Regions from separate parts of the Homo sapiens genome. Here region 2 is linked to region 1. Evidence: fine-mapped expression QTL. Tissue or cell type: whole blood. Region 1 holds a variant in brackets; the other region holds the start of a gene. All regions are shown on one strand. Distances are between the middles of the regions.

What was found. PIP is the estimated chance that this variant, and not a neighbour inherited with it, causes the effect.
Region 2: it holds the start of ADORA2B, and the variant in region 1 is fine-mapped to the expression of ADORA2B in whole blood (TOPMed, PIP 0.93).

What each region holds. Positions count from the first base shown.
Region 1 is chr17:15,860,512-15,868,617 of GRCh38, reverse strand. It overlaps a transcript of ADORA2B not described here. Among named protein-coding and RNA genes, the nearest start is that of LINC02087, 47 kb to the right of the region's middle. The variant C/T (reference allele first, on the strand shown) is at 3,764.
Region 2 is chr17:15,940,300-15,948,405 of GRCh38, reverse strand. ADORA2B (adenosine A2b receptor) reads right to left here and starts at 3,276. Exons shown (of 2, transcript NM_000676.4): 1 at 2,823-3,276. The coding sequence starts at 3,157. RefSeq lists an enhancer at 2,459-3,273 and a silencer at 3,101-3,720.

The DNA of each region.
Region 1 (8,106 bases):
GTATTTTTAGTAGAGAACGGGGTTTCACTGTGTTAGCCAGGATGGTCTCGATCTCCTGACCTTGTTATCCGCCCGCCTCGGCCTCCCAAAGTGCTGGGATTACAGGCGTGAGCCACCACACCCGGCCATGAATAAACAATTTCTTATACAGAATACAAAAAGCACTAACCATTAGAGGAAAGACTGATAAATTAGACTTAATTAAAATTAAGAACTTTGTTCATCAAAAGAAGACATTTTTTTTTTTTAATTGATCATTCTTGGGTGTTTCTCGCAGAGGGGGATTTGGCAGGGTCACAGGACAATAGTGGAGGGAAGGTCAACAGATAAACAAGTGAACAAAGGTCTCTGGTTTTCCTAGGCAGAGGACCCTGCAGCCTTCCGCAGTGTTTGTGTCCCTGGGTGCTTGAGATTAGGGAGTGGTGATGACTCTTAACGAGCATGCTGCCTTCAAGCATCTGTTTAACAAAGCACATCTTGCACCGCCCTTAATCCATTCAACCCTGAGTGGACACAGCACATGTTTCAGAGAGCACAGGATTGGGGGTAAGGTCACAGATCAACAGGATCCCAAGGCAGAAGAATTTTTCTTAGTACAGAACAAAATGAAAAGTCTCCCATGTCTACCTCTTTCTACACAGACACGGCAACCATCCGATTTCTCAATCTTTTCCCCACCTTTCCCCCCTTTCTATTCCACAAAACCGCCATTGTCATCATGACCCGTTCTCAATGAGCTGTTGAGTACACCTCCCAGACAGGGTGGTGGCCGGGCAGAGGGGCTCCTCACTTCCCAGTAGGGGCGGCCGGGCAGAGGCGCCCCTCACCTCCCGGACGGGGCGGCTGGCCGGGCAGAGGGGCTCCTCACTTCCCAGTAGGGGCGGCCGGGCAGAGGCGCCCCTCACCTCCCGGACGGGGCGGCTGGCCGGGCGGGGGGCTGACCTCCCCACCTCCCTCCCGGATGGGGCGGCTGGCTGGGCGGCGGGCTGACCCCCCCGCCTCCCTTCCCGACGGGGTGGCTGGCCGGGCGGGGGGCTGACCCCCGCCTCCCTCCCGGACGGGGTGGCTGCCGGGCGGAGACGCTCCTCACTTCCCAGACAGAGTGGCCGCCGGGCAGAGGGGCTCCTCACTTCTCAGACGGGGCGGTTGCCAGGCAGAGGGTCTCCTCACTTCTCAGATGGGGCGGCCGGGCAGAGACACTCCTCACATCCCAGATGGGGCGGCAGAGCAGAGGAGCTCCCCACATCTCAGACGATGGGCGGCCTGGCAGAGACGCTCCTCACTTCATAGATGGGATGGCGGCCGGGCAGAGATGCTCCTCACTTTCCAGACTGGGCAGCCAGGCAGAGAGGCTCCTCACATCCCAGACAATGGGCGGCCAGGCAGAGATGCTCCTCACTTCCCAGACGGGGTGGCGGCCGGGCAGAGGCTGCAATCTCGGCACTTTGGGGGGCCAAGGCAGGCAGCTGGGAGGTGGAGGTTGTAGCGAGCCGAGATCACGCCACTGCACTCCAGCCTGGGCACCATTGAGCACTGAGTGAACGCGACTCCGTCTGCCATCCCGGCACCTCGGGAGGCCGAGGCTGGCGGATCACTCGCAGTTAGGAGCTGGAGACCAGCCCGGCCAACACATCGAAACCCCGTCTCCACCAAAAAAATACGAAAACCAGTCAGGCGTGGCGGCGCGCGCCTGCAATCGCAGGCACTCGGCAGGCTGAGGCAGGAGAATCCGGCAGGGAGGTTGCAGTGAGCTGAGATGGCAGCAGTACAGTCCAGCTTTGGCTCGGCATCAGAGGGAGACTGTGGAAAGAGAGGCAGAGGGTCCAGCTTTGGCTCGGCATCAGAGGGAGACTGTGGAAAGAGAGGCAGCGGCAGAGGCAGAGGCAGCGGCAGCGGCAGAGGCAGCGGCAGCGGCAGAGGCAGAGGCAGAGGGAGAGCCAAAAGAAGAAAATTTAAGGCACACTGGAAGAAGGTATTTGCCATATATGTATTTGACAAAGGACTTACATGGAGAATATATAAAGAATTCTTAAAAGCAATAAGGAAGAGAATGACATCTGATTCTTAAAATGGACAAAAGTTCATATGCTGTTTACAGAGCCAATACCCCCGCTCCCCACCACCAAACAAACAAAGTGGGCAAAAAACCTGAGCAGGTGCATCCCAAAAGGGACTATCCACATGGCCAATTTGCATATGAAAAGGTGCTCAATCTCCACTGCCAAAAGAAAAATGCAAATCAAAACCTCAATGAGACACTACTACACATTACCCACATGACCTCCAGTAAAAAGACTGATGCTACCAAGTGTTGATGAAAATGCACAGAAATTGACCTCTCATAAATTGCTGAAAAGACATAAATTATACAAATATTTCAGGCATCTGTTTGGTACTATCCTAGAATGTATGCATACCCTAAGGCCCAGGAATTCCATTCTGAAGGATGTAACCAACAGGAACAAGCACATATGTGTTTCAAGAGACATCGACAAGAACATAACAGCGCTATTCACCTTAGCCCCAAACTGGACTTGACTCAACGATCTATCAATAATAGAATGGGTAACTAAATAATGCTATAATCCTACAATGGGTTACTAAATGGTGAAGAAAATGAACAAATTACAGTATAGGTGACAACATGAATAAATCTCACTGATTCAATACTGTGTAAAAAAAAGCTCCCCTCCCTCTGTCTCTGTACAGGGGAGCCTCCATTTTCTGCCTTCTCCCATCCTTCTTGCCTATTAAACTTTCCGCTCCCTAAAACCAAAAAAAAAAAAAGATACATGCAAAATTACATAGTTTTTAAAATTCCATTTATAATAAAATTCAAATGCAAGCAATACTAACATAATATTCAGGGCTGCATACTTTTGTGAAAATCCATAAGGAGAATAATTGAGGACAATGGTTATCTTAGGGAGTAGTGAGGGGTTATGATGGGAAAGTTGTAGGAAAGGTCTGTGGGAGCTGGCGATGCTCTTCTTCTGGATGCGAGTGGTGACTGTGTGACTTTTCACTTCCTCATAGTTCAAGAGACTATCATTTGAGGCCAGGAGTGGTGGCTCATGCCTGTAATCCCAGGACTTTGGGAGGCTGAGGTAGGTGGATCACCTGAGGACAGGAGTTTGAGACCAGCCTGGCCAACACGGTGAAACCCCATCTCTAGTAACAATACAAAAATTAACCAGGTGTGGTGGCTCACGACTGTAATCCCAGCTACTCCGGAGGTCGAGGCAGGAGAATTGCTTGAACCCGGGAGGCAGAGGTTGCAGTGAGCCGAGATCACGCCACTGCACTCCAGCCTGGGCAACAGAATGAGACTCCGTCTCTTAAACAACAACAACAAAAAAAACACTATAGTTTATATTTTGTGCATTTTTATCTTTGTGTATAGTGTTTCACACGCACAAAAAACTTAAACTTATACCAGGTATTAATTCCTTTTCTGAACAGAAAACAGATACTGTCCTAGTAAACAAAAACTCTTTAAACTAAATGCAAACAACTCTGAAAGCAACAGAAAGAAAATATTTGGAGAAGTTTTGGAGGCTCATTTATGTAGGGCCTTTATATGAATTAGGCAAAGCACTCTTCTTTGGGAGTGTAATTTAGCAAAAGCTGTCTCCTTGGGTGGAGGCCCCACTACAGCATTCTTTCATGCATTCCCACTGATCACAAAACCCACACCACTACCTCACTGATGCCATACCCACTAACAGTCACGCAAAGAAAACAGCCATTCTATATTGTTCTT[C/T]GGTGCTCTCATAATGTTTAACCTTGCCTTTTACTTAAAGGATTACAGGAACTGGCCTTAGGAGATCCAAAATATCCAACCAAGGTTGCAAGTATCCCACCTCAGGAAGGAATGCTAAACAACTGATTCATACAGCCTTGCTGCCACTAACCAGAGCACCAGATGGCCCATTACTCAAGACAACCATTGCCAGCAGATAAGCCGACCCATGTCCCCTCCCCCTCACGTTCTCTACCCTGCCCAGCCCACATTCCCTACCTTGACATCAATTTCCGCACATTGCCTAATAAAAGAAATCCCTATCAGCTCATTTCAGGGAGTCAGCCAGAGAATCCTCCCTCTCCTGTGCTTCCTCCCTTGTGCCTGGGCATATGCTCCAATAAAGCCTTGCTAGGAAAACTCTTTTGGCCTGGTGAGAATTTCTATTGCATCAAGAGCCTAAGAACCCATGATCGGTAACACTTTGAGCAAAGGAAAAGGTCCCCCTTCCCTAGGGAGATGCAGCTCTGCATACACCCATATGTTTGGTGGGAGTGCAAACTGGCTTCCCGTTGCATATGCCTCTCTGTCTAGGAGAACAGAAAGATGATAATTACATGCATATTGGTCCACCAAGCACAGGCACACATGGAACATGTACTGGCACAGGCCTACTACTGCCCAGGGCTGGTGGAAGCTGGCTGACATTGTCCCTTACCATGTAACCTTCTGTCTTCTTCTGGTACCATTTCAGTACAGCATTGCACTTGAAACCGCCATATTCCCGGGCCAAGGCCACCAGAGGGTTTCTTCTTTCCACACTGGTTAGAGAGAAGAGCACGTTAAGGAGAAGATGCTAATGTTTAGAATCCTCAAATTCACAAGAACTAAATACCTACTTTAGAAAAGCAAATGTCTGGTTTATTCAGCCAGAATCTGAAGAAACAACCACATTAGTTACATTAATAATGTATTTGATGTCTCACAGTGTGAAATAAACATGAAATTGTGCCTCCTGACTGTCATGAGTCTGGGGAGAGTTTTGCTACATTTTGTTTTAAAATCCATCTGTTGCTCATCCATCTAGTCTTTTATTTGTGTAAATATAATTCAGGCTAGAACTTTAATTCAAACTCATTTGAATTAAGGGTATCTATACAAAAGCATTCTACAGGTTTCAAGACTACATCAGTATCTAAATAACATTTAAAAGGTAGAGACGGGCACAGCACAGTGGCTCACGCCTGTAATCCCAGCACTTTGGAAAGCTGAGGCAGGAGGATTACCTGAGCCCAGGAGCTTGAAACCAGCCTGAGAAACATAGTGAGACCTCAACTCTGAAATAAATAAATAAATAAATAAATAAGCTGGGCATGGTAGCGCACACCTGTAGTCCCAGCTATTCAGGAGGCTGAGGTGGGAGGACTGCTTGAGGCCAGGAGTTCAAGGATGTAGTGAATTATGATTATACCACTGCACTCCATCCTGGGCAACAGAGCGAGACCCCCATCTCTAAAAAATAAAAAAAAATTTTTCAAGGTATATTGGAAGGGCATATTAAAAATACCAGATATCCTGCCATTGCTTTATCTCAATGAGATAAATGTAAAATTGAAATAAATTGATTTTACTAATTTAACTTTTCACTATGAAAGATAAAATATCAGAAGCATATTAATATACCCATAGCCTTCCTGTATGCATTTCTGGTATAATGAAAAGGAGAATTTTAGAATAGCACTAATTCTGGTTTTTAAAACCTCTTTTGATTATTTAAATCTCGCGCACATAAACAGGACAATATGTAATATCTGGGGCTTTAAATTAAACCTCTAAAATATATGACTTCATCTATTTGGGTGCAAATATAGGCTACATCCAAAGGTATAACAATAAGTCCTAGCTTATTCATTCAGACTTTCATAAATCCTTTGATAGTACCCTTATTAGTAATGATAATATGTATTAAAAAGCTACTACTAGCTACTTAGGAGGCTGACGCAGGAGAACTGCTTGAACCCGAGGCAGAGGTTGCAGTGAGACTCTGTCTCCCAAAAAAAAAAAAAAAAGCTATTACTCCAAAAGTAGCCGATTTTGTATACTGATAAATAAACAATACGTTCATATTGTATATGAATGAGCATACTCATTCGTAAGTTTTACTGAGTGAAATGTTATGTGTGTTGCACAATGCAAGGGGCTGGGAGAGATACCAAAGGTAAGCTGAACATTTACTGTCCACTAAATTACAGCATAAATGGAGATTAAGGCATATATTGTGCAGAAGTTATCCACACCACAAAGCAGTACAGAAATTAAACACCTGAAATAGCGTAAGACACCAAAGTCAAAGAAGGGAGATGTTGGCCAGGCATGGAGGCTCACACCTGCAATCCCAGCGTTTTGGGAGGCTGAAGTGGGCAGATCAGGAGTTTGAGACCAGCCTAGCCAAAATGGTGAAATCCTGTCTCTACTAAAAAAAATACAAAAATTAGCTGGGTGTCATGGTGCATGCCTTTATAATCCCAGCTACTCAGGAGGCTGAGGCATGAGAATCACTTGGACCCAGGAGGCAGAGGTTGCAGTGAGCCCAGATCACGCCACTGTACTCCAGCCTTGGTGACAGAGTGAGGATCTGTCTCAAAAAAAAAAAAAAAAAAAAAAGAAAAGAAAAGAAAAGAAAAAGAAAAAAAAAAGGGAGAAGGGAGCTGTCAATGCTGCCAGGTGTTAGCTATAACTTCATGAAAGTTTTGACCTTTAAATAAAGAGAACAGTATTTAGACTGTGAAAGGACAAAAGGAGGACAATTCAAGTTAGAACCTTATACACAAAGACTTACACTCAAATATGCTTGTGCACTATTGCTAAGGCACGGACTAAAACAGGTTCAGGTGGAGGGAGAGGCTGGGCCATTCTGGCAGGTGGGCAGGGGTGGTGCTAAGTAGTGGAGCATCTAGAAGATCAGGATGAGGAGTGCAGAGGACAGAGTCATGGGAAATTTCTGCAAGGTCTGCAGCAGGATGTGCTCAGTGCTTCAGAAGATTAACCAACATGAAGAAGCAGGAAGACATGAGAGAGGAAACAGTTGAAAGAGGTTTGCTGTAACCTGGGTGACCAGGGGCACTGAAAAGGGAGGAGGTGACAGAGGTGTGGCAGCAAAGACCACCTCTTAGGGACCACCCTGTTGGTCTTGCAGTCCTGCCCTCTGCCAAGCCCTCCTTCACATCCCTGCCAAAGTCCTCCTTAAACACTGATTTCAAAATGCCTCTCTAATCCTTACATGCCACTGTTTTCTGATGACTCCTCCTTAAAATATGGGTCCAATCTCACTGTACCATAACTCAAAAACAGGAATAAAATCCCACAAACTTGGTGGCTCCTCAGTGCTTTATCAAAATAAAGCACAAACCTCTTCCTTAGCAATGAAGATTTGCAATATGGCTCCAACCTGCCTTCCAGCTGGAATGTCCTAGTCACCTATCCATCCACCCAACAAATACTGACAGAGAGCCTACCATGCATATATATGGCAGAGTCCCTGGCCTTAGGAAGCCCAGTCTAGTCCAGACACACATTACCACCCCATTCCCTGAACTTCTACTTCTCTCTACATTTCTTATGCCAACTAACAACTCTCAAGTACTTTGCCTATTTAGTATTGTCTTTTTACAGCTCTTAATTTAATCTTGCACACTACTTACTGTCCAGCATCCTCCTTTTAAACTCACTGAAGACGGGCACTGCATCTTAATTATTTTCATGCAGCAAGTATTTGTCGAAGTCAATTGTCCAGGAGGACAAAACAGAAGGAACAATCAAAGCTGATCAGCCCTATGTTTTTCTGATTTCTTACTGTTTGAGACATGATACCTGAAACTGCTTCGTGGTTCCCTCTTTCTTGGGGCCACTTCCACTTTCCCTCTGGTGGAGGTGCTCAGCAGTCTCATGTCCCCAAAGTCCAGAGAGTGGGGGTCTGCTGAGTGACTCCAGCAAGGAACTCTTGCAGAGGTGGGGGTCTGGCTTCAGTTCCTAGGTCCTTCCCTTTCAAAGATCGGTGGGAACGACCACATAATCACCTATTCCTGAAGAAGAGGCTCTTGATTGCCATCAAACATCATTCTCCAGTACAACACAGTTCTCATTTTATCCTCAAGTATAAACATATATATGCTTCTGATGTAATGAAAATGCAATAGGGACGTGGATTCTCCAGGCAGGACCACCACTTCCTTTATAGGATCTATATGCAAATCAACCCTTGTTCAAAAATTATTGTGAATTTCAAGACGATGTCATCAGAGCATTAAACCCAGCATGCACCTTATGAAATTGCCCTTACCTGGGGAAAGACATTACCTGCCCCC
Region 2 (8,106 bases), 80 kb before region 1:
CCCCGCCGCCAGGGCCCAACATCAGGAATTGTCTATGGACTTGAACCAGAGGCAATGGACTTCTGTTTGTGGCCAGCCCTGTCCTGAAGGCAAAGGGCCAGGCCAAGGGCGTCATATTTGTCCCTGGCATTCCCTCCGGCTCCCCTCCCTTCTACACTGTCATCTGTCACATCAGTAAACACCTTGGCAATGCGGTGGCAGGTGGGGGCTGTGGTCTCTGCGGCCACAGGCCTCACACTTGGAGCCCTCGAACCGGGAGGAACTGGGGGTAGGTCCCAGGACTGTCCTAGCCTAAGCCTTTAGCCCTCACTCCCTGCACCTCACCCTCCTTATTGCTTGGCTTCAAAGGGGACACACCTCCTCCCAAACAGGGCACTTCCAACTTTACTCTCACCTGGAGTTCCACAACCCCAGGAAGGCCTCAGGGCCAAGTCAGTGCTTGGGGCGCCATGCACCCAGCCTGTGTCAGTCAAGTGAGGAAAGCTTCAGGCCCTGAATCTAGGAGGATTCTTAGATCGCTGGACCCAAATGTCCCTGGTTAAAGATCCCACTGCTGGAATCCCCTCGACACCCACTCCAGAGATTCTGATTCAGTACAACCAGGTGAGGCCCTGTAATCTGTATTTTAACCTCTTCCCAAGGGGCCATGAACTGCTAGGCCAGCTGAGGGAAGGCCTGCCCCAGGCACCAGCCCCTGAGAGGGAAGCCCTGGGGGCCCTAGTACACCTCTCCCACCCACCAGGGTTGGGGTGGTGCTGTGGCCAGGTCAGACGACTAACTCTGGGGCAGGGAGCTGGGGACTGCCTGTGCACCTCTTCCAGACCTCCAAGCTCTGGACGGGCCAGGAAGGCAGGATGGGGCGAGCCTCAGTGTTCTTCCCTCCTGCCCTTGGCAATGCAAAGAAGCTCAGGGCCTGTGATTCACAGCACTTTCCCCTTAACACACCCACACCCATTTTTTTCAAGACCTCACCCAGCACAAACCAGGACAAGAAGGAACAGATTTAAACTTTCATGGAACTTCCTGCTCCCTGTGGCCTGGGAGATTGTTCCACTAACTCCTCTCTGGGTCTCTGGTCTCTGCCAGGGCAAGTCCAAGGGGTTTCCATTAGATGGACAACTCAGGCTGGGGCTTGTGACTGCTCTGCTGGATGCAAAACATCCAAAATGCCATCAAGTAACAACGATGACACCAAAAGGCAGGGAAGGGATCCAGAAGAGAGAGAAGAAACTGCTGTCCTCCCTAAGCCTTGGAAATCCCTGGGCTGTCACACCTGATGGGAGACATAAGGCCTCCTGGTCCAACAGCACGGGCAGCAGCACATGGAGTGGCCAGACACCCACATAAGGCTCACAGCCCTCCCAAGCAGGAGGCTCCTGTTCCTGCTGGGACCCACGAAACAACCTGCAAGGACCAGGCCCAACACATCTGCCTACTCAAATGGCCTCTGGGAGCATTCTCCGGCTCCATTCCCACAAACACATTCCCCTACAACCACCAGTTTACTGCAGGCAGGCTCCTCCTCCCAAAACAGCAGAGCACTTTTCTCCCTGACTCCTAAACACGGTGCCACACATGGCCTTGCAGAGTGGCCTGATGGCATGGGTGGGGACACGGTGCCAGCTGTGAGTTCAAGCCCCGGCTCTGACACCCATCCCTGATACACCATCCTGGGCAAGACTCCAACCTCCCTGGGCCATCACCCCTCCTCTACGAGATGAAGGTTACAGCACCCGTCCTCTGGTACTACTGCAAGGACTGCTGGGGACACGTTTATTATAAACTGTCTGCACAGAGTTGGCACCCAATAAATGAATTCCTTCCCTTCCTTCCTACTCTGTGATTTAGTTTCCCTGTCTCAGCTCCAAATTTAAAGAGATCTCAAGCTCTCCTCAGAAATGCCAAAGTGGCCCAGGCACCAAAGACAGAGAATAAATACTTTCAACAAACTCTCAATGTTGAAGTCATCAGCTCCAACTGGGAATCCACTCTGGTCGCTGGCTGACTCCATCCCCTGAATCCTAGATTTTCTCAGTGTGGGAGAAAGAGTGGACAAGTAAGTTCGCCACCATTTTCTGCACTTCTCAGCCCGCTCCCAACAGGGCAGCAGGAGATAAATAGTTACACAAGGGCAGTGAGGCTGTAAGGCCGTTTGCCAGACACGAGGAAGCATTGTAACTCCTTTTAAAAGTATATAATCTGAGTCCGTAGCGTTCCCCAAAGTTAACGGACACCTTCCCCTGGGATGGGCCGGGCCGCCTCTCCGCAGCAGACACGTTCTGAAGCTGGCTCATGCGTGTCCATTCTGACGGTGCGAATGCCCAGCGTCCAAAGTTGCCTTGCCCTTAGTGGGAACCTCCCGGGCCTCCGGGAGCCGCAGCACTCACGGGACTGCCGCTGCACCGCCGCTGCGGGCGAGTGTTAGGAACGGCCTTCGTGGCAGGAGTGGAGATGTGATCACCAAAACTCCCGCGCCCCGGGCTCCACCCGCCCACGGGGGTGACGCTTTCCCCGGGGGTGACGCTTTCCCCGGGGTTTCCACGGCGCCTCCCCGGGCGCCGGGGACCGCACTCCCCGGACCCCCTAGAGCTGTCCCTACGCAGATCTCCTTAGAGCGACGCGCATCTGGGATGTCTTGGGTGCCCGGGCGCACTGGTCTAGCGTTGCGGGGTGGCCAGGCTGGGAACCAGCCCTCCAAGCGCCCCGCGCGCCCCCAGCCTGGCCCGTCTGGGGCCCCCGAGGGAGGAACCCCGGCCTGGAGAAGACGACCCATTTCGGAGCTCCGACGGGGCCCCGAGTTCGGGCGACGCCGAGCGCCTCACCTGAGCGGGACACAGATGGCCAGGTATCTGTCGACTGCCACGGCCAGAAGGCTGAAGATGGAGCTCTGCGTGAGCACCAGCACGAAGCAGGCGAGGAAGAGGCAGCCGTAGAAGTCAGTGCAGAAGCCCAGGCTGATGGTGATGGCAAAGGGGATGGCGAAGAGCCCCACGGCCACGTCGGCCGCAGCCAGGGACACCAGGAAGTAGTTGGTGGGCGTCTGCAGAGTGTTCGCCGTGCCCACCGCGGCGCACACCAGCACGTTGCCCGCCACCGAAAGCGCGGCGATGACCAGCTCCAGCGCCACGTACAGCGCGTCCTGTGTCTCCAGCAGCATGGCCGGGCCAGCTGGGCCCCGGGCGCCCCCTACCGAAGGCGCGCCGGGCGAGGGGCAGCCGCGTGAGACCCGCCGGGCATGGCCATAGCGCCCGGACCGCGCCTCCGCCTGCCGCTTCTGAGCCTCGGGGCTGGGGCGCTGGTGGCCGGGACCCACGGGTCGGGGCCCCCCGCGGCCAAGAGGCGGCACCCATTGGCCCGCGCGCCCGCCCGTCTCGGGCTGGGCGGAGCACCACCCACTCGCCCGAGCCCAAAGTTCGCGCCCGCGCGGGGCCCCTCCGGTCCAGGCGCCGTGCCGCGTCTTGGTGGCGGCGGATAACTAACAAATTGCCCCAACTTCCCGTCACGCTCGAGCTCGGAGGCTGTGTCCCAGTGCTCGCACTGCCTTCCAGTCCGGGCGACTCCTGGGATGGGGCCGGGCTCTGCCCGGGGCGCCAGCAGGTCCCAGGAGCCGCCGCGAGAGGACCCCCCAGGGCCGCGCAACCCCGGGCGGGGCGAGCTCACTCCAGGCTAACCCTGCGCACCCCGGGCAGGCCGACTGGATGGGGGGCTGCCGGGCAGGCAGGGAGCCGAGGCCGCAGTCCCCGCTCGTGCAGCAGTCTCGGGCAGCGCAGCACCACCGGAGCTGTCTCCAGGCTGCGGGGCCGGACTGCAAGGAGCCCTCGGGGGCTGCAGCCCCCTCCGGCCGCCTCCCAGCGAGGCTCAGCGCTGTTCTCCACCCTCGCCCGCGCCACTGCCCCTACGGCCCCGCTCTGCCTTCTACCTTAAGACAAGCTCGTGGCCGTCCCATCCTCGTCCACCGCCCGAAAATACCAGTGTTCCCCGGGCCCTCTTTTTTCTTTCCTTCACACTCACCCTGGATCGGCACAGGCTCCCGAGGCCTCCCACGTGGCCCTCACACCCTTAACTCCCAAATCTCTTGCTTCAGCCCTAACAGCCTCCTGAGGGCCAGATCCTAACACCCCACTGCCGACTCTCGCCAGGAGAGAGACTGGTGCCCCCAAATCCAACAAGACCAAAACCAAGCTCATCTCTAATTCTCCCCAAACCTGTGCTGCCGCCTTTTCCTGGGACCCTGTTCGTTATTGACCTGGCAACCCTCACCCACCCTAGGAAGTTTGCTGACACCCTGAGCCTTCGCCTTTCTCCACGTCCCAATGATCAGCAGTGCTGCTGGTTCTGCTTCCAGAGACTTGCTTCCTTTTACCCCCAAAGTCCTGCCCCGAGTCCCTCCTCACCACCTGCTTCTACCATCCCTCCCTCTCTGCCTGTGGGTCCTCAGCTTCTGCAGCCCTCACCAACACCATTGTTCTAGAGCACTCCTGGCCACGCTATTTCACCACCCGAAAGCCTTTGCTGACAGTCACCAAAGAGGATGGGTAAGGAGATTTTCCAGCAACAGGAAAAGATGCTTGTAAAATCATGTAAAGCAAAAATCAAAACATGGGGTGACTGCTAAAGGGTAAAGGATTTTGTAAAGGATTTTTTAGGGTGATAAAAATTTTCTCAATGTGGTGATGGTTGTACGGTTCTGTGGATATACCTCAATGCCACTGAACTGTACACTTGAAAGGCATGCATTGTGTGGCACATAAATTATATCTCAATGTAGCTGTAATGACGACAACATGGCTCACGCCTATAATCCCAAAACTTTGGGAGGCCAAGACAGGAGGAACATTTGAGGCCAGGAGTTCAAGACCAGCCTGGCCAATGTAGGGAGACCCCATCTCTAAACAAACAAATAAAAAATAAATCAGCCAGGCACGGTGGCAGGTGCCTGTAGTCCCAGCTACTTGGGAGGCTGAGGCAGGAGGATCCTTTGAGGCCAGGGGTTCGAGGCTGCAGTGAGCTGGGATCATGCCACTGCATTCCATCCAGGCTGGGCAAAAGAGGGAGACCCTGTCTCTAAAAAAAGACAAGAAGAAGAAAAACCCCTCTGCCCTCCACAGGCATAAACAGTCACATCTGCCCTTGCACCAACGAGGACAGCAAAATGTCAAAAACACACACAGTAGACCTCCTAGCTGGGTGGGATGATTACAGGGAATTTTTTTTTCTATTTCCCTTGAGGTTTTGTTACTTCCATAATGAAAACAGTTGATTTATATATCAAAATATTGGCAAGCCCACACATTCCGTGTCCTGGTCACGTGAGTTCTGGAATCACCTGCTCCACCAATCACGTTCCCACAGCAGTTGACACAAACTTCTGCTGCCACACAGAAGGCCAGAGAGATCAGGCAGCTCCTCCAATAGCACTTCCTTGGAGTGGCAGAGGGCAAAGGGTTAGAGGAGGCTTCCTGGGGTACTGGCTTTTACAGAGTGAGGGAGGCTTCACAGTGGGGTGGTTCCAGCTATACCAGGCAGAGGTGGTAGTTAGGAGTTTGCCCAGGGGTGCCATGCCCAGGAGAGTGAAGAGAAAAAGGCCTAGTGGAGAAGGCTCTGGCTGCCAGGCTGGAGAGCTGGGCCATCCTGCTGGGATGCCAGTCCGCAGAGGTCACAGGACGGGGCGGGGATGGTCAGAGCAATATCCAAAGGAGTGAGTGGAGATTTTGCAGAGGGAGAGGAGGCGAACGGTGTCTGGCTGGTTGCTATGAGTGGTTCCTGCACGCCCTGCAGCTGCTGGGCCTGGGCTCTGCTCTAGCATTTCCTGTGCCCAGAATCACCATTTCCCCTTTTCAGAGCCCAACCTCCATCAGGAAACCTTCCCTGAATCACCCAATGTATTAGGCCATTCTTACATTGCTATAGGGAAATATCTGAGACTGGGTAATTTACAAAGAAAAGAGGTTTATTTGGCTCACAGTTCTGCAGCCTGTAAACCATAGTGCCAGCATCTGCTTGGCTTCCAAGGGGCCTCAGGGAGCTTTACTAGTGGCAGAGGGTGAAGTGGGAGCAGGCATGTCACATGGGGAAAGCAGGAGCAAGAGGTGGGGGGAGGTGCCACACCTTTTTTAACAACCGGATCTAGTGAGAACTCACTCACTATCATGAGGACAGCACTAAAAAGGATGGCACTAAACCATTCATCAGAAACTGCTCCACTGCTTCCACTAGGCCCCACCTCCAACACTGGGGATTACATTTCAGCATGAGATTTGGGAGGACAGATTTCCAAACGATAGCACCCAAGTAGGAAGTCTCCAGCACAGGGCTGTGCCCTGTTCCCGTCTGTGTTGCAGTCCACTGAGTTTCAGGTCCCCGGTGTCCCTCACCAGCAAAGCTTTCCCTTCTCCGTCCTCTCCCCACCCCAGCCCCACCTGGTACCCTCTGACTCACACAACAACCCGCCCCTCTTCACAAAGTCTTTGTGAAATGAATCATACATTTTCCTGACTCCTTCAACCCCTGATCCACGCTAGGATTTGAGCTGGACTCACTGGGTCCATGGGGGTGCCAATTATTATTATTAAATATTATAATAATTATTATTAACAGGTTATTATTCAGGAAACACGAGGAGGAAGGGTGGAATCCGAAGAGAGTCATGGCATTTAGTCTTTTTTTTTTTTTTTTTTGAAACAAGAGTCTCACTCTGTCACTGAAGCTGTAGCACCATGGTGGGATCATAGCTTACTGCAGCCTCAACCTCCTGGGCTCAGGTGATCCTCCCACCCCAGCCTCCCAAGTGGCTAGGACTACAGGTGCACACCACCATGCCTGGTTAATTTGTAATGTTTTTGTAGAGACAGTGTCCCACTATGTTGCCCAGGCTGGTCTTGAACCCCTGGGCTCAAGCGATCCTCCCATCTCAGCCTCCCAAAGTGCCGGGATTACAAGTGTGAGCCACTACACCCAGCTGGTTTAGTCTTGAAAGCAATTGGTGTGCAGGGAGCAGAGCCCAGGTCTTAGCAACAGAGACTCCAGGTTTGATTCCCAGCTCTGCTGTTGATGTTGGACAAGTCAATTAATCTTTCTAAGCCCCTATTTCTTATGTATAAGATGGGATAACAATATCTACTTCACAGGGTCAGGCTAAAAAGGGGCAGGAGGAGCCATCTGCCATCTGACTACCTCTAGATCCTGACTCCTGGAAAACAACTGCAGTGATGAAAGCATCTGGTTAGGTTAGGACTAGAGCCCTAGAAACTCAAGTGGGACTTTCACTGGTGAAAGTGGAAGGGTATGCTTCCTGAACAAACTGACCCTCCGTGGACCTCTTCCAGACTGCTAGTACACATCGTCTCATCTCTCACCCCTCTCATCCTGCCTCAACTGCCAGAGCAGAATCCAGGTGACATACAGATGGTCCCAGAAATATCATGACAGGCCCAGGTTCTCTCTTTCTGCTCTGCCATCTTCAGTAGCTTTCCTCTTAGGCTTGTTGCCACATGGTTACAAAAAGGCTGCCACAGCTGCAAGCATTGCTTGCTCATGCAACCTCATTCAATGCAGAAGAGGGCTAGCCTCCCTACCGTTTATCATGAGGTGAAGTCGTGGATCACTTGCTACCCTACACCAACCATGAGCACAGGGAAATGGAATGATCATGCCTGGCTTTGACCAAATATGGTTTATTCCATGGGGAAGAGGAAGGGGCATACCTTTCCCAAATATGTTACCCTCCGAATAAACTTGGGGCTCTATAAAATAAAGAGGAAAAGAGTACAGTGCACATTGCCCCTCAGTGTCTGTGTGAGTGTCAGAGGGAAATTTTAAGTCTAACCTGAGAGCTCTAGGCCTCACTGGCTTGTACATAAAGATGGCACACATCAGGAGTCACAGCCTACATTTCAGAACAGCTGACTCTCTCCAGGCCTCAGCTCCCCACAAAATCCCTCAAGCACTTCTGGAAGTCAACAAGGGTTTCTTACTGTACCTCAACGTTCTACTTCTCTCCGACATCCAAGGACTTGTCACTGGTTCAAGCTTGGGACTGGCTCCGCTTTTCCTGAGGATGAGCCCAATCCCAGGAGGCTCCTCAGTCTCTGCTCAGTGAACGACTGT